Linked DNA regions of Homo sapiens: all the other regions are linked to region 1. Evidence: fine-mapped QTL for protein levels in blood plasma. A gene starts in region 1. Each other region holds a variant in brackets. All regions are shown on one strand. Distances are between the middles of the regions. Region 1 holds the start of CNTN2 (contactin 2). Region 2 has its middle 13 kb from the start of CNTN2. Region 3 overlaps CNTN2 (contactin 2). Region 4 overlaps CNTN2 (contactin 2).

The links. PIP is the posterior inclusion probability: the model's chance that the variant is causal. Protein levels are from antibody-based Olink assays in UK Biobank. Linkage for the fine-mapping came from a reference panel and not from the study's own genotypes, which makes the PIPs less certain.
Region 2: its variant is fine-mapped to the plasma level of the CNTN2 protein (UK Biobank, PIP 0.98).
Region 3: its variant is fine-mapped to the plasma level of the CNTN2 protein (UK Biobank, PIP above 0.99).
Region 4: its variant is fine-mapped to the plasma level of the CNTN2 protein (UK Biobank, PIP above 0.99).

Annotation. Positions count from the first base shown.
Region 1 is chr1:205,040,011-205,048,141 of GRCh38, reverse strand. It overlaps CNTN2 (contactin 2), which reads right to left and starts at 4,930. Exons shown (of 23, transcript NM_005076.5): 1 at 4,748-4,930. RefSeq lists enhancers at 429-933, 5,000-5,144, 5,092-5,236 and cis regulatory regions at 5,072, 5,164.
Region 2 is chr1:205,026,425-205,034,555 of GRCh38, reverse strand. No RefSeq gene overlaps it. Among named protein-coding and RNA genes, the nearest start is that of CNTN2, 13 kb to the left of the region's middle. RefSeq lists an enhancer at 7,956-8,131. The variant G/A (reference allele first, on the strand shown) is at 4,341.
Region 3 is chr1:205,064,524-205,068,525 of GRCh38, reverse strand. CNTN2 (contactin 2) reads right to left here. Exons shown (of 23, transcript NM_005076.5): 12 at 3,776-3,903; 13 at 3,264-3,439; 14 at 2,617-2,737; 15 at 1,927-2,085; 16 at 1,276-1,425. Among named protein-coding and RNA genes, the nearest start is that of TMEM81, 18 kb to the left of the region's middle. The variant A/G (reference allele first, on the strand shown) is at 3,105.
Region 4 is chr1:205,069,307-205,073,303 of GRCh38, reverse strand. It overlaps CNTN2 (contactin 2), which reads right to left. Exons shown (of 23, transcript NM_005076.5): 17 at 3,743-3,813; 18 at 3,243-3,477; 19 at 2,766-2,878; 20 at 1,171-1,357; 21 at 709-821; 22 at 68-236. Among named protein-coding and RNA genes, the nearest start is that of TMEM81, 13 kb to the left of the region's middle. RefSeq lists an enhancer at 1-886. The variant A/G (reference allele first, on the strand shown) is at 890.

The sequences.
Region 1 (8,131 bases):
AAAGGGGAGTTCAGAGCCCAGCTGTGGGCAGAGACTAAGTGATTTATTATCAGCCTACAAAGTACTTGAGGAGCCCTTCAGGCCCCCGCTTGACCTCTATCCTATAAAACAGCACACTGGTTAACAGGGCAGGCCATTGAGTCAACCTGCCTGCTGCTGTCTAGCTAGTATAACCCTAATAAAACTAACTAGTATAACCTGGTTATCACAGTCGTTACTTAACCTCTCCCAGCCTCACTCTCCCATCTGCAAGAATGGGATGAGAAGGGCAGGACCCGCCCCATGGGGCTGCTGTGAGGTCAGCACCATCACAGGCTCATAGTGAGTGCTCAGGAAAGATCAGATCTTAGAACTGAGAAATCTCACAGCCGTGTGTCCGCAGCCACTGTGCCTGTCTGGCTTACTTCTATACAGTCACAACGTCCAGGCGGCACTCATATGTATTTAGGAGACTGACAAACCCACAATCTCCTGGGCAGGTGCCTCCCTCCTCTTACGCCTCAAAGGTGCAATGGTCATAGGTAAGCACTAGCACAGCACCCCAGACTAGGGCACAAGGACACAGCCCCCATGCCAGAGTTATACCTGGTACAATGTGCTCAGGGGGTCACGCGGCCAGGACAGGCACTCCCAAGCAGGTACTCCTTCTCAACAGCCCTCACCTCCTGCCTGATGGGATCTAAGATCAGTACCTTTTCCTTTGCCTAAGACAAGAATTGCCTCCTGGGACAGCACCATCATCCTCCAGGAAGGTCTGAACCATCCCCATGCCCCTCTGGTCAGTACAGGGCTCTGTGGTGGCGTGGGTGAGGGCTGCTAGGATCTCAGCGGGCCAGGCCAGGCTGCAGCTGGCAGGGGTGGGGTGAAGGATTGTGACTGAGGGGTCTCTGTGGTACCCTGAGCTGGAGACATCCTTAGGGCAGAAATGGGGACATAGGGACCTCCTCAGCCCCAATGGGGACCAGGGGTGTCGTGCAGCCCCGTCCTTCCTTAGTCCCCTCTGTGAGCTGCTCAGCTCTCTCTGCAGGCTCTTTGTGATTGCAGCTGCTTCCCCGAGGCCCAGCCCTGGTGCTGACGTGCCCTCTGGGGAGAGCTGTGGCTCCCAGGCTCATGGATTTGTTTGATCTTCTAGCATTGGGCAGGGGGGAGTCTGGCCCTTGATCTGAGCCTAGAGTCTTTGCCCCTGCAAGAGAGACCTACTCTAACAGAGAGACCCTTTAAAGTAGGGAGTGGACAGAAGAAGAGAGGCTTCCATCCTCCTGGGAAGCTCAGGATCAGAAGCCAGCCACCCCCAGACCTTAGGTTTTCCTACTTGCCTGCCCTGCTCTGTGTGTGGTGTGAGGCAGTGAGTGAGGGCTTTAGAAGGATCCCTTTTTGAGATGCCAGGCGTAAGAACAATGGTTTCAACTTGTTTCTGAAAAAGCAAATCAGGAAGAAAATTTCCTCGTGCATTAGCAGAGCAATTTCTGCTTGTCCCCCAACTCTGCTGCAAGGAGGCTCCCCCCAGTTCCTAGACAGCTTCCTCCAGGGTGGCTCAGAGCTTAAGCCTGGTGGGGGTGAGGTCCAACCTGCTCCTCCTCTCAAGCTAGTTTCCTTTGGATTTGGGGTCCAGATTAACTTCACCTCTTGGGCAGCACTGCAGGAAGGCTGCCCTCCAGCCAGGCACAGGGTGGGAGAACCCCTTGGTCAGGGTGTTCAGGGTGGCAGGCACTGAGAAGATGTGGGCTTAGGCTGGAGGAAGCCCAGCAGGTTTGACTAGATGGGTGTGTGTGAGGGGCTGGGGTTGACTTCCCCACCTACGTAGTGAACTGAATGTCTCATTAGGTAAAAAGGACACTGAGATGCGTTTGGGCCTGAGTGTGTCCTGGGATGGGAGGTGTTCAGGTTTTGGATGAGAATATCACACTCCTTGCTTTTGTTTGCATTCTCTTTGGTAAACAAAGAAACATGGGCTAATCTTGTAGCAAGGAATCATCAAACTAAGAAAGGACTTACTCTAGGATGGTTACCGTCAGGATACGGAGCCCACAGAAACTCCCATAAATGTTCCAGGTTAGCAACAGCCTCTGGGTGGTTTGTTTAGATTGGGGTTGTAGTCCTGAAGGATGAGGGGGTGGCCAGCATGCATGAGGGGATGAAAAGGATGTCTGCCTTCTTATGGATTCCTGAGTCACATCCACCTTTTACCATTTGAAAGAGGATTACTAGAAGTTGGAAGAAATTTACAGGGTCAGCCAGCCCAACCTTTGCCTCTAGGCAGGACTCTCTAACCTTGGACCAGACCCCAGTTCTCCACACCATCCTTAGAGTCATCTGAAAGGAGACTGCCCCACCTCCTCATGGCTCACTCTTCTAGCCAGGAAGTGTCTCCTGCAGTCTAACTTAAGTCCCTCTGGCTTCCCTGGCATATTCTTTGCTCTGGTTCTTCCTCCCCTGCATATCAATCACCTCTTCTCCAACCCCCTGGTTCTGCCCTAGGAATCCCTCCAAAAATACAAATACCACCCACACTCAGGCTTAGAGATTGTCTTTGAAATACGCTTTCTCACCAACGTTTGGCTCAAGGAGGTTTCTGAAGAGGGCACCATGCATCCTCCAAACCACCCCAAATGCGTTGCTTCCCTGGTGACTTTAGAGGCAGAAAGGATGCCTTGGGGTACACCTGTCTATGTACATGCTCCTAAGGAGTAAGTTTGGTCAGCCAGAGACGAGATGTGCAATCACCCCGTTAAGCACAATTCCTCGGAGGCCCATCCCACATGTGTCTCTATTTGAACAACTGCTGGCAGAGAAGGTGCTGGAATGGAGTTGCATAAGGAGTGAAATCTGGCAGGGGAAATGGTGGCGGCGGGAGGCTGAGGGCTGAAGCCGGTGGAGTACACGCGATGAGAGAAGGGAGTGCGAGGAAAGAAGGAGTAGAGGAAGGGAGGAGAGTAAGAGAGAAAGAGCCGGGAATGAGAGCAGACTCCTGGAGTCTGAGGCACTCATCTGCATAAGGAGTGTGCCTCTGCTTCCCTCACCGCTCATGGTGTGAGCACAGTGGTCTCTGCACCTGTGAGGCAGGTGGACCTTGGGTGACTTTGACATCATCAGGTCAGGGGCCCTTTCCTGTCTGTCTCACCTCCTGCCTCCCTCTTATTCGCTGAGGACTTCCACGGGAGATTAGGAAGGACTCTGACCTTGTGGCAAAAGCCCTGTCCATGGTTCTGCAGCTTGGCTAGAAAGGGGTTAACTGGTGGGCACCCTGGGGAGGGGCTTGGATGCTGCTGTCTTTAAGGGGAGAGCTCCCTTCTCCCAAGGCCAGGAGTGAGGGCACCTGTTGTGACCTCCAGGCCATCTCCCTGTCCAGGTGCGATCACAGCAGCCTCTCCCACAGGTGGCCCACCTTTTGCTGCACTCGATCTCCAGTGGCTCATCCGGCCCCTCTGAGTGGGACCAGGAGGTAGAGAGACTCGGAGGCTAAGTGAGCTGAGGCGTCTTTGGCCAGACGGTTGGGAGAGGAGGCCGAAACTGTTGCCCAGACGAGACCAGAACATCACCTGTGCACTGGGTTTCTTGGGCTGTTCCTCCTCCCAGCTCCTTCTGAGCAGAGGGAAAAGATGCTGAAACCCACCTTTCTCCAGGGCTGGGGCCATGGCATGCACAACCCCACTCCCTCCTGGCCTCACTGGACCCCCCCCCCCAGGACACAGGCTCAACCCCCAGGGGTCTGGGGCTAGAGGGTGCCCGTCTCCATCCCCAAGTAGCAGCAGGATTCTCCCCTTCCATAGGCACTGCCTTCTCCATGCCCCGCTGCTTCCCAGACCTGAGAGACCCTCTTGGAGAAGGTGACAGGATTCAGCTCTGGACACTCACTGGCTGGGGCTGCCCCCCACCTCCAGCCCATTATGTAAGCCCCACGGTGCTGGGCAGAAGGATTGCCCTCTCTTTCCAGAACTCCCCAGCTCTGCCCCTTCCCTTCCCCATACCATTCTGGCCCCAGCCCCTTTCCTTACTGGAAAGCCAAACTTTGTGCAAATTCTTCCCTCCCACCAGTGAGGATGGGGGGGAGGGATTTGAGGAGAAGCTAAGGTTGGGAGGGGGAAGGGAAGGAAAGGAATTTCAGCCCGGTAGCCCCAGCCTCTCGCCCTTTGGGATGTGACTGGCCTCAGGACTCTCCTCCCCGAGTCCCAGTTCCTGGACAGGCCCTTGCCCAAACTTGTGCTCCACTCTCCCCTCTCTCTTCCACAGCCCCCCTCTCCATCCAGCTGAAGCAAGACTTTGCAAAGAGGTCACCCTGCAGAGGTAGACCCTGGGTGACCTCAAAACTGGGGACTCCGGCTCAATTCCATGCAGGGACTTCTGGGGCAGGCCAGGGCCCAGGGCCTGGCTGTATGGACTGGTCCTGTCCTGGACCGGGTGCCCAGGGCCGGCCCAGGAGAAACTGCCCTCTCCACAGGCAGCTGCCACTGCCCGCTGGCCAACTGGAATTCCTGGACACACTCCTGGGGTCCAGCTTTTCGGCCAGGCTCGGCCTGAGAGAGCCCTGCGGGATGCCGCCCACGTAGACAGGGCGGAGGGGAGCCCCAGCACCCACCCTGGGGCTGAGGGGAGAAGTCAGAACGGCCCCAGCCTGCCAGTGTTCCTGTCCCTGTTCCCTCCCAAGTTACAAGGGGGATATTTACAGGAACTGAGCCGGGAGCCCCGGCCCATAACAGCACGCAGGGAAGTCCCTGGGTTGGAGGAGACAAAAGCGGTTGGCACCTACCTGGGGCGAGAGAAGGGTGTTGGCTGGGGCAGGTGGATGCTGCCCGAGTCGGTGAGCCGGGGCCGGCCGGGCCGCCAGCCCCTGTCTGGGCCGCTGTCCTTTGGGCCCTGGCGGCCTCAGCCGCTCGCTGTCCGGGTGCGGCGGCGGCCGCGGCGGCGGTGGCGGGTGAGGGCGCGTGTGTGTGAGCGCGCCCGGAGCCACTGCAGCATCTCTGCATCAAGATGTGCTCCTCCCTCTCCCAGGCTCCGCTCACTGGCTGGCTCTGGTCCTCAGCCAACGCTCGGGGGCCCTGGAGATGGCTTCCTTCTGCCCCCCTCCCACCCCACTTCCGTCCCCACCCTCCTGGCTTTACCTCATTTGCTGTCATTTAAGGACCAGGGAGCGAGCCCAGCGCGCGTCTTCCATAATGCATGGGCCGCTCATGGACAGGCCGCGGGGCGCTGTCTGGCCCGCCTGCCCTCCCGATCCTGCCCAGCCCCACTTCTAGTCCCCCTGCCCAGGGCTGAAGGGGCAGGAGAGGGGCGGGGTGAAGAGGGAAAAGAAAGTGGCTCTTACTCCTCAAACCCTGGAGACCCATGGAGCCAAAACTCCTGGTTTCCCCAGAAATCCCCTATCCGAGGAAGAGATCCAAATCAGAAATCCCAGCTTGCTGTGTGGGGCAAGTGGCAGGGAGGGGCTGTCTCTGTTGCCCGGTCCACCCCATGTTCCTCTTTATTGTTTCCCTTGTTCAAAAGTAGTTTGAGCTTTTTGTCAAAATATCTAAATATTAGAGGACATTTAAAAATACATAGTGAAAGTCCCTCAACCACTACTCTTAATAAATCTAAGTACATGCCCCCAGGTTTATTATTTTCGTGTATACAATTACATGGGTTAGTAGGGTTATTTCACACAAATGTGATTACATAAAACAGTAGGATTGGCCAAAGACTTTTAACTGTGTAACTGATCTTGGACACTTTTACGCATCAGTACGTTTGGATCCAATCCCATTTTTAAGCAACCAGCAGTGTGATGTCATGAAAAGCTCCCTGGATTAGGGGTCTGGGTGTCTGAAGCATACTCTGGGCTCCACAACCGACTGGCTGTGTGTGCTTGGCTAGGTGCCCTGCCCTCTCTGAGCCTCGCTGGTACCTGAAGGGATTAAAGATGGACACAGTCCTGCCAGCTCTGAGATTCTAAGTGCTCACCCTTGTCAGCGATGCCTTTCTCCTGCCCTGCTCCGGTCACGTGGGGGAGTGCCCAGGAAGGCTGTGGCCCGGAGGCGGAGGGACCAGCCATCTGCGGCACCAGTCGGCCCTGTCAGGCTGTCACTGTTGTCTCACCCCCCTCTGATCTGCCTGCTGTCCAGCTTGCACAGGCAAGACCGGTGAGCAGTCCAGATGCTGCAACAGCTGGCAGGGCCAGGCCAGCCTCCCAGTTTTAAATGGCTATACCTGTCAAGCCTGGATCATGGCTCCATGTCTCCCTGAGTGGAGGAGGTCCTGGGGACCTGGGCCAGAATGAGAGGGTCTGGAAAAGGAGAAGGAGTCGGGGAGGTTCTGCTGCTCAGCCTCCAAGGCTGGAATGTCTGCCCAGGTCCCACATGCGCTCCCCTCCTTTCCTTCTGAGCCCCTCCAAAGGGCTTGCCCAACTTGAGAGATAGTCTTCTTTGTTCCTGATGGGGAGGACTTGGATTTTGCTAATGATGTTTCTTAAATAATGTTGAATGCTGTTATATAGACAGACACATCAACCCCTTGCCAGGATATCTTTCCCTTCCTTCCCCTGCCCACACTGTCCTTGCCTATCTGTATGTCTGAGGGCTGGCACATTGGCTCTGAGCTCCTGAGGTGAACCTTGCTCTTTGGCACCATTCAAGTCAGCCTGGGCTCCAAAGAGAGGCTCTGCAAGTTCTCTCCTAGCAGAAAACGGCAGGAACAAGTCCTTGCCAAGAAAAGGATGCTATGTCTGCTGCAGGGGGCTGACGGGCCAGGAAATAGGCTGGCCCAGGAACCAACAGTCTGGAAATGCTTGCAAGGATTGCTTTAGACGGAGACAGCTGTCTTTGTGACTCTATTTTAGGACAGCTGCTGCCCTGTGGTGGGAGCTGGGTCTCTGGGGAGGGTCGTTAGCACAGGTGACTTGGGTCTTAAAGACTCTCAGATCTCAATGCAACCAGCATGCTCCATGTGGACTCTGGCAGACACAATAAGTGAAAACAAGAACATTTGCCAAGCCTAGACTTGGATGGGGAGACAGTTCCCAAAGTCTCATCTTCTCACTTGTCTGAAGCTCTCAGTGAAGTCTAGTATGAATGAGTTTGGGGAGATTAGGGGGATCTGCACTCCCAGTCTCTGAGATGCTCCTGTTCCTGAGGAGAGAGTGGGGTGGGCATTTGGGGGTGCAGGCTGAGTTTTGCTTGTGGGGCCCATTAGCTTGATAATAACAGAAATAATATCTGTTTTGAATGCCTCCCACATGCCGGGAGCTGTGCTAAATGCTTTACCTGAATTACTTGCGCAAGAGGTCCATGTTGTTATTATCCTCACTTTTCAGATGTTGCTCAGTAAGAGTAAGGAACTTGCTCAAAAGAAATAGTAAACAAGTGGAACCCTGGGCAACGTGGCGAAACCCCGTCTCAACAAAAAACACACAAAAATTAGCCAGTGTGGCAGTGCACACCTGTAGTCCCAGCTACCTAGGAGGCTGAGGTAGAAAGATCACCTGAGCCTGGGAGGTTAAGCCTGCAGTGAGCTGTGATCGTGCCACTGCACTCCAGCCTAGATGACAGAGTGAGGCCTGGGATCGGCCTCCAGCATCCTGGCTTAGCCACCGTGCCATGGACTCCAGCTACCTACTGTCTGTTCTTTTGAGGTGGGCAAAATAGGGGGCAGAACAGTTTCTTCTTCTTTGGTGACATCCAGAGCCCACAATCTTCAGTGCAGCTGACCATAAGGGCCACCTCTCCTTTCTGTGGCTGATCAATATGACTCCATGTTGTCCAGAGCTGGGACTCCACATCTCAAAGTTGAGTCCCCACAGACTTTCAAACAGGGCAAGAAAGGGCCAGTGAAGATAATCAGGTGGCTAGTCAAATGGCTTATAAATTTGTCCGCAAACATGTGGTGCTCCCTTGGTGGTGGTGGGTGGGGATCAGAAAGCATTTTGAGGGCCACCCAACCCTGCCCAGACCATCTGCTTCTTCCTACTGTAGCCACACAAGATTGATAGCAATGGAATCCAGTGGGTCTCTAACCGATCAAGAAGGGACCTCTAGGCCCCATCCCTGGGGACAAGTGGGGAGGAGATGAGACCCTGCCATGGCCCCAGGATGCTGCAGCTTTGCTGTCTCTTTCCTCACCACTCCCCCGCCTCACCTCTCCTTTCCTGGCCTCTCCCGCC
Region 2 (8,131 bases), 14 kb after region 1:
CACCATCTCTTCCCTGCCTCCTCCAGCTCATACCACAAACACCTGGTCTACCTGGTAAACTCAGAGTCTTCCTTCAAGACACAGTTAAAATGTTTTCTCATTCCCAAGCCTCACCAGGCAAATAAACAACCAATTGTGTTGGGGCACAAGTGGCTACTTCTCTCTCCACCCTGGGTGCCCTGGAGGCAGGACCAGTACCAACCTAAGTTGAGCAAATTACCCCAAAAAGCAGACGCAGAATTGCACCAGGGCACACAGCATGGAGAGGGAGCATGAGCCAGGTTTAACTCTTTATTCACTGCCTCAGCCAGGTGTCATCATGCAGGGCCCCTGGGAGAAGCTGTCCACCAGGGTCAGAGGATGAGCCTGAGCTGGCAGAGGCTGTGAGGTGGGTGCAGACCTCTCTGGGAGGTAGACTGAGGTCCAGGGCCACCTTTCTGGATCCCCAGCCTGTGTGTAGAGTCTGTGCTCAGAAGGGCCCCATGCTTGGTTTAATGCTTTTCTGCTGCTGTCTTGGAATTTACAATCACTTTTAAACAAGGGGCCTAGTATTCTCATTTTGCATTGGGCACTCACTGCAAGTTACGTGGCTGGTCCTGCTCAGGTCAGTGGGGTTTCCCCACTAAAAACAGTACCTGGAGTTACTGGGCCAAAGAATGATCTTCCTCCCTGTCCTAGAGGCGCAGGACTTCATTCACAACTTCAAACCCTGCCCTTGGCTTTGTTAATCTCCTAGGAGCCGGTCAACAGGGCCCCAGGTGTTTTGATCCCTCTGAGCTCCTGTAAGCCAGCGGCATAGAGTGTGCTAAGAATGCATTTTACATTTTTAAATGGTTGAAAAAATCAGAAGATGTCGCGACACATAAAAATCATATGAAATTGAAATTTCAGTGTTCATAAATAAAGATTAATTGGAACACAGCCACGCTCATTCATTTATATATTGTCTGTGGCTGCTTTTATGCCACATCGGCAGTCGAGTAGTTGCAACAGAGGCTGTATGAAGATATTCATTCAACAAAGCTGAAGATATTTACTATCTGGCTTTCTACAGAAAATGTTTGCTGATCCCTGGTTTAAGCCATGCCTCTGTCACCTGCAGCCTAGGAATCAGAAACCAGGGGGATGTCAGTCACTGACACTTAGGTGTTGGGTTTCTTTTTTGCCTTAGCTCAGTGGTTGTCAACTAGGGGGCCATTTGGCAAGGTCTGGCGGCATTTGTAGTTATCACAGTGGGAGTGTGTGTGGGGTAGAAGGTGTGTTGTTGGCATCTAGTGGGTAGAGGTGAGGACGCTGCTAAGCATCCTACAGTGCACAGGTCAGCCCCCACCACCTAAGAATTTCCCGGCCCGAAGGAGCCCCGTGCTAAAGCTTAGGGCAGGGCCAGGCCAGACTCCCAGTGGGTCTTATGGGCTGGGGAACTAGCCAGAACTTCACTGCTTTGGAATCAATGGAGCATTCCAAAGGCTGTATGTACCGAGGGAGGGGGCCCTGGAAAGGACCAAGCATGAGTCTTCTCCCTTCCTTGGCAGCCTGTGGCTCCTATACCTGCTAGGGGCCCTGGGCAGGCCTCAAATGGAAAACAGCCACTTTCCCTGCATTTCCCTAAGGAAGAGGATAGGTGCCCATCTGCTTGGCCAGGTGAGCTTGACCCCGGGAGGGGAGATGGCTATCGAGGCTGCCAACCGTGGTCATAGGAAGAGGTGCCAGGGGCCAGGGATGCAGAGAGGGAACTGGAGGTGCCCCCAGGGGACCAGGTGAGCAGGGTGTCCAACTCAGGCAGAAGGAACGTGAGGCTGGGAGAGCCTTGGGGAAAAGCTGGCACGGCTCCCACCCAACCTTCTGGAGAGTGAGAAGAACAGATGCTGTGGCTGTCAGATGAGATGCTCCTGGCACTTTGGGAAATGGCAGAATTAACAAAAGGACGGTTGCTTTCAGGGAACACAAGCAGGGGCGCAGTGTGTACAGCTGGGCTGGCCTCTGAGGACTCCTTTTCCTTGAAGGGCAAGGAGCAGAGGTCCTCTTGCCTGGCTTCTGGACTGGTTGTAGATTGGGGTGGTGGGGAGGGAGGATGGAGGCTGAGTCGTTGGACCTGGGGACAGAATGGGGTCAAGTTAGAGCCAGAGCCAGGGCCAAGGCTGTACATAGCTTGGAGTCTTGTAAATGGCAAGGCTGTCTGGAGGTCATCTCATCTATCCCTCTGCCTCTGGGTCCAGCCTCAGCAGATGGCATCTTGCCGGTGGAGGACCCAAGCAGAGGGGCCCTCAGCAGGAATGAGAATTCATCAGCTGTTACTTGCAAAGCCCCCAGAAGAAGCAGCCAGTTCTCTTTGGAAGCTGCATGGACAAAGAGGCACATGCCAGAGGGTCTGCAGGGAGCCTGCCTCTTCTCCTAGCGGAGAGTGGGCAATGGGAGTGATGGAGGCCGGGCACGGTGGCTCACGCCTGTAATCCCAGCACTTTGGGAGGCTGAGGCGGGAAGATCATGAGGTCAGGAGATCAAGACCATCCTGGCTCACACGGTGAAACCCTGTCTGTAGTAAATAATACAAAAAATTAGCTGGTGTGGTGGCGGGCGCCTGTAGTCCCAGCTACTCGGGACGCTGAGGCAGAAGAATGGCATGAACCCGGGAGGCGGAGCTTGCAGTGAGCTGAGATCGTGCCACTGCACCCCAGCCTGGGTGACAGAGTAAGACTCCGTCTCAGAAAAAAAAAAGAGTGATGGGAGCGGGTGTGGCCTCATCCTGGATGCTTACCTGACCTGGCGGAGAGGCGGGACGTTGTGATTAGCATTGTTTGGCTAGAGAAACTCAGGAAGATTTGGCATAGACTAGGCTAGCTGGGTCCCACTCAGAGGCAGGAGGATTAGACTCCATGCTCCTAAAATCCATTAAAAGAATAGGAAAAGAGAAGGAGGGTACGCGATTGCCCAAGTGTGGATGGTTTTAATTGCAATGCAGAGCTCATACAGACCCAAAGAAAACTCTTTCTAATGCTGAGGTGTGGGATGACAGATAAGAGGCCGGGGGTTGTGGCATTTTTCCCAGGACCTGCCTGCCTGGTCTGGTGGCCGCGGGCTGGCTAAAGTTCCCCTGGCCAGGGAGGTTGGGGTCACAGCTTTGTCCTTTCTGGCAGACCCATGGCTTCCTTGCTCCTGGAGCTGCAGCAGCTGAAGTATAGGGTGGGAGATGGGGCGGGGGAGCCAGGACTACCCTGCCCTCTGGAGGCCCTGGACATTAGCCCAGAGAGCCTTCAGCTGAGGAGGCTGCCTGCCCATCTGTGAAGTGCACTGGCCATGGGTTAAGCCCATAACTGGAGGGGTGAGCAAGGCCAGAGGGCAAGGGACAGCAGACGGCTCGGAGGGGTCACGGCCTCATTTGCTGGAGTGTCATCCCTCTCCCTGTCACAGGTCTCTATGGGGCCAGCTGACAGATGCGCCCTGGAGGAGGGCGGGGGGCCTCCTCCCCATGGCCGGCCTCCCCTCTCTCCTTCCCCCTTTCCTGCTGGCTTTCCCCGAAGCCACTGCATTGTTAGCTGCAGGCCTCCGGGGACAGACTTCAGATGGAGGGGAGCGGGTGTGTGTTTTGTTTTGTAGGAGGGAGTCTCTGAACCAAGAACCTATTTGGCTAATGAAGTCGTAATTACTCCCCGGCTCACTAATAGGATGAAAGCTGGGGACTCACTTAAAAGCCACTGATGGACCTGCGAGAGTGGTCTGAGGGCTCTGAGGAGGGGCTGGGGAATGGTAAATGGAAGGAGGTGCATGTCGGGGTTAGGGAGAGGGAAGAAAGGGGGTGTAGAGGCCCTGGTCTGGAGTCTGCTTCTGGGAACCAAAGTCACACCTACAAATTCTTCAGCTTAGCATGGGATGAGCTGCCTGAGATTTACCATCTTGCCTGTGCCTGCCTTCAACTTTCCCAAACTGGCCACAGCCCTAGCTGCCAGCTTTCATAGGAGGATCGTGGGCTGTGGAGGGTCTGGGGCAGCCGAAAATCCCAGATGATTGCTATTTGGCTTTGGAATGAGTCTATTTCTAAGTTTGTGTATTTTTTCCTCCCGGAAAAGCCCTCAGCTCTTTCAGATGAGGTCTGGTGGCCGTCATTTGAAATGTGAGTCTGCTTTCTCTGAGGACGCATTAGCTCATGTGGAAGGTGGGGGGGTACATTTGCTGTGCGGTATGGGAGCCAGTTTTGGATTTAGCACTTGGTGTGTGGAATCTGTAAGACAAGGGGACTGGACCTGGGCTTACTCCAGCCCTGACATTCCATGGGTCTGAACCACAGGCACATAATTGAGAGGGGACTAGGGGGTCTCCTGGGGTCCTGGGTGGGCCCTGTGCAC[G/A]TTCCCCGCAGTCAGCCAGCGGCCTCACCCATGCCAGCCACACCAGGGCACGCCCTGCAGAAAACTTGGGAAGGAGGTTGATGCAGTAATTTGGAAGGAAAGATTTTCTGTGTGTTTTTTGCTTTTCACGGAGATTGTTGCTGGGACTCGGTAGGGAGAAGGATGGAAGACGTGAGCTCCTCTGGGTCTTAGGGCTGACTGCATTGATGTCGGTCTTCGCCAGACCATCTTTCCCTGAGGAGGGGTGTTGTCAGTGTTGAGAAGGAAGGAACCCCGAATGCCTATGGCCCGGAAGAAGCTCTAAGCTTGGGAGTCAGGCTCCTATATCTTGGTGTAAAATGACCCCAGAGAGGTAACCGCATCCACATCCATGGGGACCCAGTGCTGTGGGGCTTGTGAAAAGGACATTGGCTGAGTCCTGTCCTGGGGTCATTCTTGGGGCAAACCCAGGCCTTTGGACATCCAGCCTTATCCTCTTCTGCCACACGGGTTGTTGGGTGAGTTGAGGGTCATAGTGTGTCCTAACAGCCAGGCTGGAGCTAGAAGGAGCAGGAGGGAGGGAAGTGAAGGATGGACTGTCCTTTCTGATGAATGACGGTGGGTTGCTGGCCTTTAACGGGAGGCAAGAGCACTTAGGGGACTTGGGGAAAGTTAATTAATGGGGCTGTAGAGTGAACCCCAGCTCTCAACACTCATCACTGGCCCTTACATCCAGCCACTTGGAACCTGGTAAACTTGCTTTTAGGAAGAGAAATATTGCCTGCCCCCTCCTCATCCCTAACCCCTATACACCATGGACTAAACCACTAGCCGGCCAATAAATACAGTAACGCAGACAGCTTGAATACAAATGGGATCTGGTTACCCTGCAGGGACTGCGGGTCCCAAGGATCAGTCAACATGTATTTATGGACCCCCACACACTATGTGTGGGGCACAGGACTGGGGGCCACAAAGGTACAAGAGGCATAAAGTACTGGCCCTGCCCTCCGCAGGTTTGCAGCCTGGCCAGATACAGGAGAAAGTCTCTGCAATGTCAGACAAGTCCCTGCTGGAGGAGCAAGAAGGTTGAGAAAAGCTCTCGAGAGAGCTAGCCCCGTGGGCCAAGGGGATTATGAGAAATGGATTTGAGCCTGCTTTGAAGGATTGGGAGGGTTTTTGAAGGAGGGTGTCGAGTCTGGAAGAACATTTGGGTAGACAGCAGAGGGGAAAGTGTAAAGTGATTCATTCATTTATTTAAATGTAATACATTATTATATAGTGCTTCCTATGCCTCAGACACTTTTCACATTTCAATTGATTTGATCCTTACAACAACCTACAAAGTAGCTACAATGACAACCCTTATTTTGTAGATGAGGAAACTCAGGCAAAGAGAGGTTCAGTCAGTTGCCTGAGGTCACACAGCTAGTGCCTGACCTGTCTGCAGAGTCCTGGCTCTTACTTGGTACTTAGGGCACATTTGCAGAAAGCTGAGCACCTGTAATTTGCTGCCCCCTCATCATGTGACCACGAGCTGCATGGCACCCACAACCTTCTCCTGGGGTTTCCTGGGGCATTCAGGAGCCTGCACGTCCTGCTACCCAGAGCGGAGGAGGGGGGCGAACGGTTGCGGGGACATGTTGGAGAGTTGGCAGGGGCTGCTCTGGCATGATGCCTTTGAGGCACAGGCACCAGGGCTGATTCTTCACAGGGAGGCCCATTCATACCCCAATCACAGTAGTGAAAGTGGAGGTTTTTTAGTCAGACCAAACTGGCAGCTAGTTCTGGCTTTGTCATTTACCTTGGGCAAATTATTCTGCTATTTGGGCCGGGTGCAGTGGCTCACGCCTGTAATCCCAGCACTTTGGGAGGCTGAGACGGGCAGATCACCTGAGGTCAGGAGTTCGAGACCAGCCTGGACAACATGGTGAAACCCCGTCTCTACTAAAAATACAAAAATTAGCTGGGCATGGTGGTGGGCACCTGTAATCCCAGCTACTTGGGAGGCTGAGGCAGGAGAATCGCTGGAAACAGCAAGGCGGAGGTTGGAGTGAGCTGAGATCATGCCACTGAACTCCAGCCTGGGTGACAGAGTGAGACTCTGTCTCAAAAAAAAAAATTATTCTGCTATTTGGAGTCACAATTTCCTCATGCAAAACAGGATGTAAAGCTACCTACGTCAAAGGGCTGGTGTGCAGGCTAAAAGAGAGCATTGGCATGAAATGCACATCACTGTGCCTCATGCAGTTGGTTTCAACAATATTCGTTCCCCTTCTCCTCTTAAGTCACTTACATGTAAATGTGTTGTGACCCAAATACCATCTGGTGCCTTCTTGCCTCTTTGACAGTAATGTATAAACAGCTCAGTCCCCTGCCAATTCCATGGACTGTGAAAGTCCAAGCCCCCCTCACCATTTTTGCTAATTCCTGGGGGTTCATGCTCTGACCCCTCTATTCTTCTGCAGTCTCTGTGCCCTGCATCAATTTGGATGTAAAGTCCAGCAACTTTGCTAGTTTGCATAAAACATCCATTCACAAGAAGCAAATTCACAAATGTAGTAGGCTTGATTGCCAATTCGGGGGACGTGAAGAAGGGTCACATCCAGGCATACACAGGTTTTTCAGTGTGTCCCTCTCATCTAGGGGCCTCAAACATGATGCCTGCATCAGCATCACCTGGAGGGTTTGTGAGAACACAAATCCCAGAGTTTCTGATACAGTAGATATAGGGTGAGGCCCAAGAATGTGTTTTTTAGTAGAGAAGGGGTTTGTTTCACCATGTTGGCCAAGCTGGTGTTGAATTCCTGGCCTCAAGTGATCCACCTGCCTCAGCCTCCCAAAGTGCTAGGATTACAGGCGTGAGCCACTGTGCCCAGCCAAGAATGTGAATTGCTACAAGTTCCCAGGTGGTTCTGATACTGCTAACAAGTTCCCAGGTGGTTCTGATACTGCCGGTCTAGGGACCACCCTTTGAGAACCACTCCTCTAATCTCCTTTCTGCTGTTTCTTGCTCCTCAGTTGCTGCCCCCTGGATTGCCCTGTAGGTCCAAAATCTCCCCCTCTCTATTATACAAAGCTCTCCCCAGATGCTATCTGCAACCTCTGTACCCAGATCAAGCCTGGACCCTTGGTTTACTAGGATTCAGCCTTTTGAGAAGGTATTTGGGGTTTTAAGCACAGGAGATGTCCTTGTGTGTGTTTGTTTCAGTGTGGAAGAATCCCGTCCTCTAGCTTCTCACTCTCTGCAGTTGTCTCTGCGCGAAGCTGAGCAGTCAGAACTCCTGTTTGGGTTCAGTGTGGGTGAGGTGAGTTTCCAGTGAGCCCCGGCCAGGGCTGAGGGTCTGTGTGCAGACCTTATCAGACTCAACCGAGTCCCAGGTCTACACAAAGCCATGCTTCTTGCTGGTGGTGGTTGGGGGGGTGGTTGGGGTGTGTGTGTGGCTGGGGCTAATCAGCAGCAAATTCTGGGGTGGGAGTAGGAGTGAGGGTTGGGGGCTGGGGGCTGGGGCTGGGGGCTGGGGGCTGGGCTGTCGGGCCACAGCTGTGGCTCTAAATTGCTCTGAGGCCCACTGCCTGGTCGGTGCTCCAGCAGGAACTGACATCAAACAAATGGGCTCTGATGCGTTAAGTGGGGAGGGGGATGCTGAAATGGGTCCCCCTCCCCCGCCTTTCTCCACCTAAAATAATGTTGGACAGGAGAGGCCTCCTTGATGAGAAAGGCTGTAATGAATTCCCAGATTCCAGCCCTTTGTGGGCAGCTGGGCAAGAGGGGGCAGAGCCTTCACTCTTAATAAAGATGGGAAGATGGC
Region 3 (4,002 bases), 22 kb before region 1:
AAGGAGTCCCCTCATTTCTCCACATTTGACCCTCCAAGAAGTTCAGGATCAATCAAAGAAAGTGCTGCCTCTGGAATTTCTTACTCAGGAGAGGTACCAGCTAAAAATGTTGAGTGATTCTAGAAAAAGGGCCTGGAGAGTCAGTCTGGGGCATGTAGGAGAACATGTTTCAGGCAGACAAGAAGGTGGACCCTCACTACACATCCAGTGCAACAGGTCTGTAGAGGAGGTGAGGCAGGGTCCTTAATCTATGCTCCTGGTCCCAGGATCCCCGGGCTCTCATTCCAGGCCTTCCCCTGCGAATGGCTCGGAGATGGGCAGGAGCCTCTCAGCAGATGCTGACTGGAGCCTGTGCCTCCCCTACTCTCTCCTGGGTTCTTTTCTCCCCCTCCTTCTCCACTCAAGTTCTGACACCCACACGCTTTTTGCTGAGGGTTGTGGGCAGGTTATTCAATTCCATCTGCTCCCAAAGAAACCATCTAAAGGCTTGGAGACACTGGCTGCTTCCCTAGCCCCCTGCACAGAACACACACACATCTTTCACATCAACTGATTTCCTTTTTTTCTTTCTTTTTTTTTTTTTTTTTTTTTTTTTTTTGAGATGGAGTCTCGCTCTGTCGCCCAGGATGGAGTGCAGTGGTACAATCTTGGCTCACTGCAACCTCCACCTCCCGGGTTCAAGCGATTCTCCTGCTTCAGCCTCCCGAGTAGCTGGGATTTACAGGTGTGTGTCACCACGCCTGGCTAATTTTTGTATTTTTAGTAGAGACGGGGTTTCACCATGTTGGCCAGGCTGGTCTCAAACTTCTGACCTCAGGTGATCTGCCTGCCTCGGCCTCCCAAAGTGCTGGGATTACAGGCTTGAGCCACTGCGCCCAGCCAGCATTAACTGATTTCTGTAGTGCATACTCTTCCAGGAAGACATCTGTCTACCACCCCATGGTCCTGGGTTCAAGTCCAAGCTCTGTCAATGTGACTCTTCCTTTCTCCGAACTTTGGTTTTTCCACTTTTAAAAATTAAACTTAAAAAAATTATAGATGCACATGCAGTTGTAAGGTTGGCCAGTTTTTAAATGAGGAGTTTGGACTAGATGGTTTGTCCATGCAGTGGCCCTGGTCCCAACTTGGTGTTCTGTCCTCCTCTGTTTTGTGAGAGTCTGAACCCTGTGAGCAGGGTTGGAACTCAGCATAATTGCGGCTGGCTTGGCATTCCCTATAAGTGGTGCCAGGGTCTCTGCCCTGATGATAGCTTTTTGGGACACACAGGACTCTCACCTGCTTCCCTGGTCCGGATTTTGCTGGAGGGCCCACTAGGCTCCCCAGTGCCCAGAATGTTGCTGGCTATGACCCGGAACTCATAGTCCATCCAGGGGGTGAGGCCCAGCACCTGTGCAGTCTCGGCATTGCCCTCGATGTTTGCAGGATCTGCAAGGCACCAGGGAGTCCATATTCCAGCATTCGCTTATTCATCTGGGTGCAGAGGGCAGGCACTGGCCTGAATCACCCCTTATCTACCCAGCCCTCACTTCGGTACTTGCCATATACTAAGCACTCAGTACCTTTTTCAGAAATGATTGAAAAACTACTCAATTTCCCTATCTTGGTGCCTCTGCAATGCTGTGTGCACGCCTACGCCCCTATGTCCCCATGAATATTTTCATTGCTCCAGTAACAATCCTACCAATTCTTCAAGGGCATAGACCAAGCGCCTCCTCTTCTAACTCTTTCCCGACTCTCCTACTTTCTGTGTGACTGTCTTCCTGCCTGCCTGCATGCTCTCTGCTGGCAGAGGACAGATCTTGTCCCTCTTTGAAGCTCCAGGCTCAGCCCTGGCCCTCAGACCCCGATCCCCAAACCTTGACCCTTTCCACCTCCTACACCCAGTCGAGCCTTATCAGCACTGACCCAGGTGGGGCTCACACTTACTGGTCCGAACCTGCTTCCACTTCCCTGCAGGTGGAGTGCGAGCTTGCAGGGTGTACTTAGCGATGGGGCTGTGGTTGTCGAAGCCACGGCTCCAGCTGAGCTGGATGGTGGTGTCGCCAATGTCCCTCACCACCACACCTCCTGGGGGACCTGGCGGACCTGCACCAAGAGGTCAGAGCACAGTGGGTCAGAATTGGGCAGCTTCCAATTTGAGCCAACCTCCTCCCAGCCAGGCTTGAGCTGGTACAGTACCAAGACAGGGCAGCAGAGGATGCAGTGAACACACACCCAGGCGGGAGGGCGGGCAAGGGGTGTGGGCAGTTGGGGCGGGTGCCAGTTGTTGGGTGGAGGGATGTGTCTCAAGGCTGGGGGAGCTCACAGAGGCTGTCACATGGAGAGGTGCATAGATCTCCCAGCACTAGGCTTTGAAAACTTCAGGGCTCAGTAAAGCACTCCTGTCTTGGGATGTGTTTAGGAGTGGATTTTTTAAACTTTGACTTTGGAAGAAAAATGTCCTGATCATTTAGGACCTGTGAAGAACCACAGGGTATATCCAGCTCACAGGAGTTCCGCCGGAAGCCCTTCCCCGCAGCTTTGAGGGAAGGGAGGGGAGATGAGGCGAGCAGGTCAGAACAGCCCAGCTGGGTTTTAAGGGAGTTGGGGTAGGGGTAGAGGTGGGAAACCCCTCACCTCGGACCAGGACTGTGGCCTCCTTGGACGCGCTGTCCACCACCGTCTGGGCCATGCACGTGTACTTCCCCCCATGGCGCAGCTGGGCGTTCAGGATGGTCAGATCCCCAATGGTCTCCTTCTGCACACGGGGACAGTTAGGGGCAGCAGGTCAGACCACCGGCCCTGACCAGTGCAGCAGGCCATGAGACATGAGGCAGCGCTTGGGAGTCCCCTACTCCATGACATCCATGGACCCCACTGGATCTCAGTTTTCCTGTCTGCTCAATGGGAGGAATCACGACTCATCACTTAGAACCACTGGGGACTAAACAGCAAAGTTTGTTTCAGGAGACAGTCAATGACTGTCCACATTAATAATATCATTTGCCCTAGGGGACAGGCTAACAAGAACAGTAGTGGGAGTGTCTTGGTGGCTGCCCACAACTCCAGGTTTGTCCCTAACCCTCTCCTAAATGCATGGTCCCTGGGTGGAATCCAGGAAGGTC[A/G]GCTGTTCATCCAAGGATGAGCTTGCCATGTGTGGGCCTGAGGGAATGGGGGCGCTTAGGCTATGGGTTTCTTAAAGGTGAGGATGGCTAAGGACATCTTGGGGCCCCTGTCTCTCTAGAAGGAGGGAGAAGCCATGGGGCTCTGGCCCTAGGTCTCACCACATTAGTTCTCCGGTAGTGCCCTCCAGGCTTATCAAAGTCGATGGGGAAGTCGTCCAGGGTCCAGGTGAAGGTGAGGTCCATGGTGGGGTCGTGGGAGGCATGGCACTGTAGGGTCAGGTTGTCACCCAAGTTGATGTCGGCACTTGAGGGGGCTAGAGTGATTTTGGTTGCATCTGCCAAGAAAAACAAGGCCCTTGGGTGGATGGGGGAGGAAATGGGCCCAGGCCGGGTCCGCAGGGCAGGCTGAGAGGCTCTGTCCTAAGGCCCAGCAAAGAGAAGAGGTGGTGTGACCCACAGGTCCCAACTGCCCAGGACTGCATGAGTGTGTGGCAGGCAGGGAGGCATGACCAGAGTCTCAGTGGTGGCCAGGGGGTGGTCCCAAGCAAAACTGAATCCTGGGGTGGCCTTGACACCAAACTAGGAGCAATGTGGACACAGGAGCAGGATGATGGGGAGGACAGTACCCTGAGGAGGCTGAGCCCCCGGCCTACCCACATGGCAGCCCTCACCTCGCACAGATAGGATTCCAGTGCTGTTGGCTTTGCCCATGAAGTTCTCAGCAAAGCAGGTGTATTTGCCTTCATCTGACCGGCTGATGTTTCTTATGATCAAGGTGCCATCTGGAGTTACAGTCACTCTGTGGCAAGGACAAGGCAGATGTGGCCAACTCAGGCATGGTTGTCCCTGGGGCTGGCCAACTCCTGTGACTGTTGTCACAGGAGGGGAATTGGCCTCC
Region 4 (3,997 bases), 27 kb before region 1:
GATCCTCTCAGGTATCTGGGTGGATCCTGAATCTCTCGAGGGGATAAGGGTAGGGGAGGAGCAGCACCTCCATTCCTCACGATGTGGACTTCTGCAGGGATCCCATCCCCTCCGGGCCCTGTGGTCCGAATTTGTACCAGGGCATGGCCAATGTCTTCAGGCACTGGGATTTCTATCCAGTTCTTGCCGGTGAGGTGGAGCGTGGGAGTCAGGTGTAAGTCATTCTGGTACAGCATCTGTGGGAAGGAGGTTTCCAGGTGGAGTTTCCTGACACCAGGGCTGATCGTTGAGTCATCCCCAGCTTTAGGTACTGGGAGGAGACCCGATGGTTCTGGGCTCTTGAGGTCCAGCCTCCTCACCCCTCCTCCCCATTGACAAAGCTCCTCATTGGTGGAGGAAAGCTTGCAGGCCACTGAACTGTTTCCGTAGACTCCTTAAGCTAGAAGAACCCCCATACTCCATCCCCATAGTCCATCACTGCCCCTGTGAACTCTGCCTTTCTGCAGTGATACCATCTGCCCGTTTTTATAGTTTCTACTGCAAGTTACTGAGAGAATAGTTCATGAATTTCATTCCTCTCACAGTCACAAACCCTTTGCTTATGTCTCACTCAGATGCCTCTTGCTATAAATTGCTGCTGCTTATGTTCACTGGAAACACAGAGGAGCTGTTCCTTCCCATTCTGGGCCTAGCTGATTGCTTCCTCACCTTATAGCCGGTGACTGCAGACTCATTTCGGAAAGGGACCACAGGGTCCCACTTAATGCTAAGACTAGAGCTTGAGAAAGTCCAGGAGATGTTGCCAGGAGGTCGCCGCGGAGCTGCCAGAGAGGAAGAATTGGAGAGATGTCCAAACGTTTCCCTGGCACCCCGCACCCCCTCACCTTTA[A/G]CCAGCCCTTCTCTGGATGTTTGCCTCTAGCAGTTACACCCAGCACATTCTGTCATGCCCACGAAACAAAGCCCATGAAAATCCAAAGGTTGGAGAAGTGTGAGACGCTTCAGGGGCCATGAATTCCATTCCCTTATTTCCATTAGGCTCGCTGCCTAATTTCTGTTCAGCCCAGAGCTGGTGGGCTAGAGCATTTGTCTTATCATTGGGGAAGGAATGATCTCAGAGGCACCCACCCTCCAAAATATTGCCCTACCCCCACCCCAGGCAGACAGACTCACGGGGCTTCATGGTCGTGGCGTTGGCAGAAGGGCTGGCAGGCCCAGTGCCAGCCCGGTTGTAGGCCCTCACGGTCACATGGTACTTGGTGTTGGGATGCAGGCCGCTGACTCGGGCACTGGTGTCCAGCCCTGCTGTCCTCACTCGGTCCGCAGCTGCTTCTTTGTCCCCAGCTTTCCAGTAGCGGATCTGAAGGAGGCGGGGGTACCCAAGGGGTAGTAGTCAAGCCCAGGATCTCAGGGCTGCCCCGGCCCCCACATTCTGTTCCTCTCTTGCTCATCCTGGTCCCTGTGACCCAGTCTTAGGCCTCAGAACCTGGAGACTAGATCATGAGCACCCAGACAGCAGGGCCATGTGGGTGTGAGTCCCTGCTGTCTGTTGGTGCGTAGTTCAAGGAAGGTGCTCAAGACATGGGTCAGGGAGGGAGCTGGTGGCACAGGCTCAACCTAGCAATGGCCTGCTGGAACCCATTTCATTTCATTAACTTGGGGGGCTACCGTGGGCATTCTGCTAAGGGACAGAAAATGCTTATTTGTATTGCAAAGTAGTCCCCTGGCCCTAAGCAAGCTTCTGAAGGTTGCCTAATAAATGCAAACCCATTTTCATGGTAATCATAGCATGAAGACCTGCTAAATATGCTTTCAAAGGCAGAGGCAAGGGCAGAGTTTGGAATTATCTCCACACTGTGGCTTGCCTAAGCTATTGTACTCAAATCTAGAGTACTCTACTAGAATGAACTTGTGCTATCACTAGTAGGCCCAGCTTGATGGTTTCTTCTTGCTTTTCCTTCTTTCTCTCCCTCTTGCTTCCCATCACTTGCCATCTGCTCCACAGGTACCCCTTTGTGGAGTTCTCAGTGGGCCCAGGACTCAGGCCAGACTGCTGGGCCCCAGATTCCCCCGGGACAGGATGATCAACTGTCCATAGAGCGGCTCAGGCTGTTTTCTGTGCAGCCCTGGACAGGCCAGCCTGAATGGGCTCTGGGATGAAAGGGGCAGGCCATGCCCCTTCCCAGAACCTGTTCCTTCTACCCTCTCAGCTTCCAATGCTGGCTCTAGCCAAGCATTTACTTTAAGGCTGCCTCCAGGGTCTGTCTTCCCCAATGGGCATAAGCCATGGGGTCTTTTTTTTTTTTTTTTTGAGATGGAGTCTCGCTTTGTCACCCAGGCTGGAGTGCAGTGGCGCAATCTCAGCTCACTGCAACCTCTGCCTCCTGAACGCAAGCGATTCTCCTGCCTCAGCCTCCTGAGTAGCTGGGATTACAGGCATGGGCCACCATGCCCAGCTAATTTTTGTATTTTTAGTAGAGGCGGGGCTTCACCATGTTGGCCAGGCTGGTCTCAAACTCCTGATCTCAGGAGATCTACCGCCTCAGCCTCCCAAAGTGATGGGATTACAGGCATGAGCCACCGCGCCTGGCCTGCCATGGGGTCTTAGTGAAATTTGCATTCACAGTGCTACACAGACTGGATGCTCAGTTTGCCATGTCAGCGAACCAGGGACGCCAGGAGGAATGATTAGTGGTCTGTGAGTTGTTCCCACCTGGCTTTGAAGCCCCAGCACCCCTTCCTCTCCCAAGTCCCAGGTTGGTGCTCACCTCATACCCCAGGAGGATACCATTCATGTCCTGCTGCACGGGTTCCCAGGTCACGTTCATCTCTGAGGATGAGACCCCTTTGGCCCACACCTTGGTAGGGGCCACCCTGGGCTCTGGGGACCAATACAGAATGGGTTTGGATTCCCAGGGCCCCCCTGTGTCCTGCAGAGCAGCCCCCAACCAGGATTGCCTTTGCTTAAGATTTTGGAGGAAAGCCTTCAGGATGAAGGCCGAGTGGGAGCCCCCCAAGCAATGCTCCAGGGCCCACTTCTATTCCCAGAGAGCCTCCCTTTTCCTAACCCCGAAGGGAGACAAGGTAGCAAGAGCTGGAAGTGAGGCCAATGATGTGGAACCCAGGTGTCCTCTCAACCTCCTCCTATGGAACTGAGCTGGGAGATGAGTAGCGTTCCCCCACCCCACATCCCTGTGGACAAGTGGCTGGGGTAGGGACGAGCAGGGGGCCCAGGGGCAGCCCACCTTCCTCAGCTGAGTACACGAGTGCAGTGAGGCTCTCGGGCCCATCCCCGCGGCGGTTGTAGCTGCGGATCTTGACCTCAAAGGGCGTGTAGGGCCGGACGCTCTCGTTGCTGTAGACAAAGTACTGGGCATCGGCGCCAGGCACCCGGGCGGTCTGCCAGTGAGTGCTGCCCTGCCTGCGGAAGGACAGCAGGTAGCCGAAGCCGTCTCCGTTCTGGTACTCCCGTGACATGGGCTGAGGGGCAAGAGCATGGCATGGGCGAGGGTCCGCGGCATGTGTCCCTGCCCGTTCCCTGGCCCCACCCAACCTTTGCCAAGAGTAGCGGCCCTGGACGCCTACGCCTGCAGCGTGGATTCGCGTAAGGGGCAGCGGGTGCGTGGAAGGGGGACAGGAAGTTATCCGCGTTTGAGTCAGAGCTGTGCAGTGGTCCTTTCTGCAGCTGCTCAAGCGGGAGAGGGGTCAGGGAGGAGGAGGAGGACATCTGACCCTTGCAGCTTACCGTCCAGTTGACGATGAGCTCTCCGGGGGCTCCACCTCCTCCGCTGAGTCCTGAGGGTGCCACCGAGGGGGCTGTCAAGGGCCAAGGGACACCGATATGGCTTGTTAATGAGCAAGGAAAAAATGAAAGCCCTGAGCCTGTGCCTGTAGAGCACCGTAAGATGGGAACCCCTTCAACTGGGCCCTGGGTTTGCCCCCCAGTGGTCCCTCTGAACATAGGCTTTGGAGTCAGGCAGTCCTGAAATCAAATCCCACC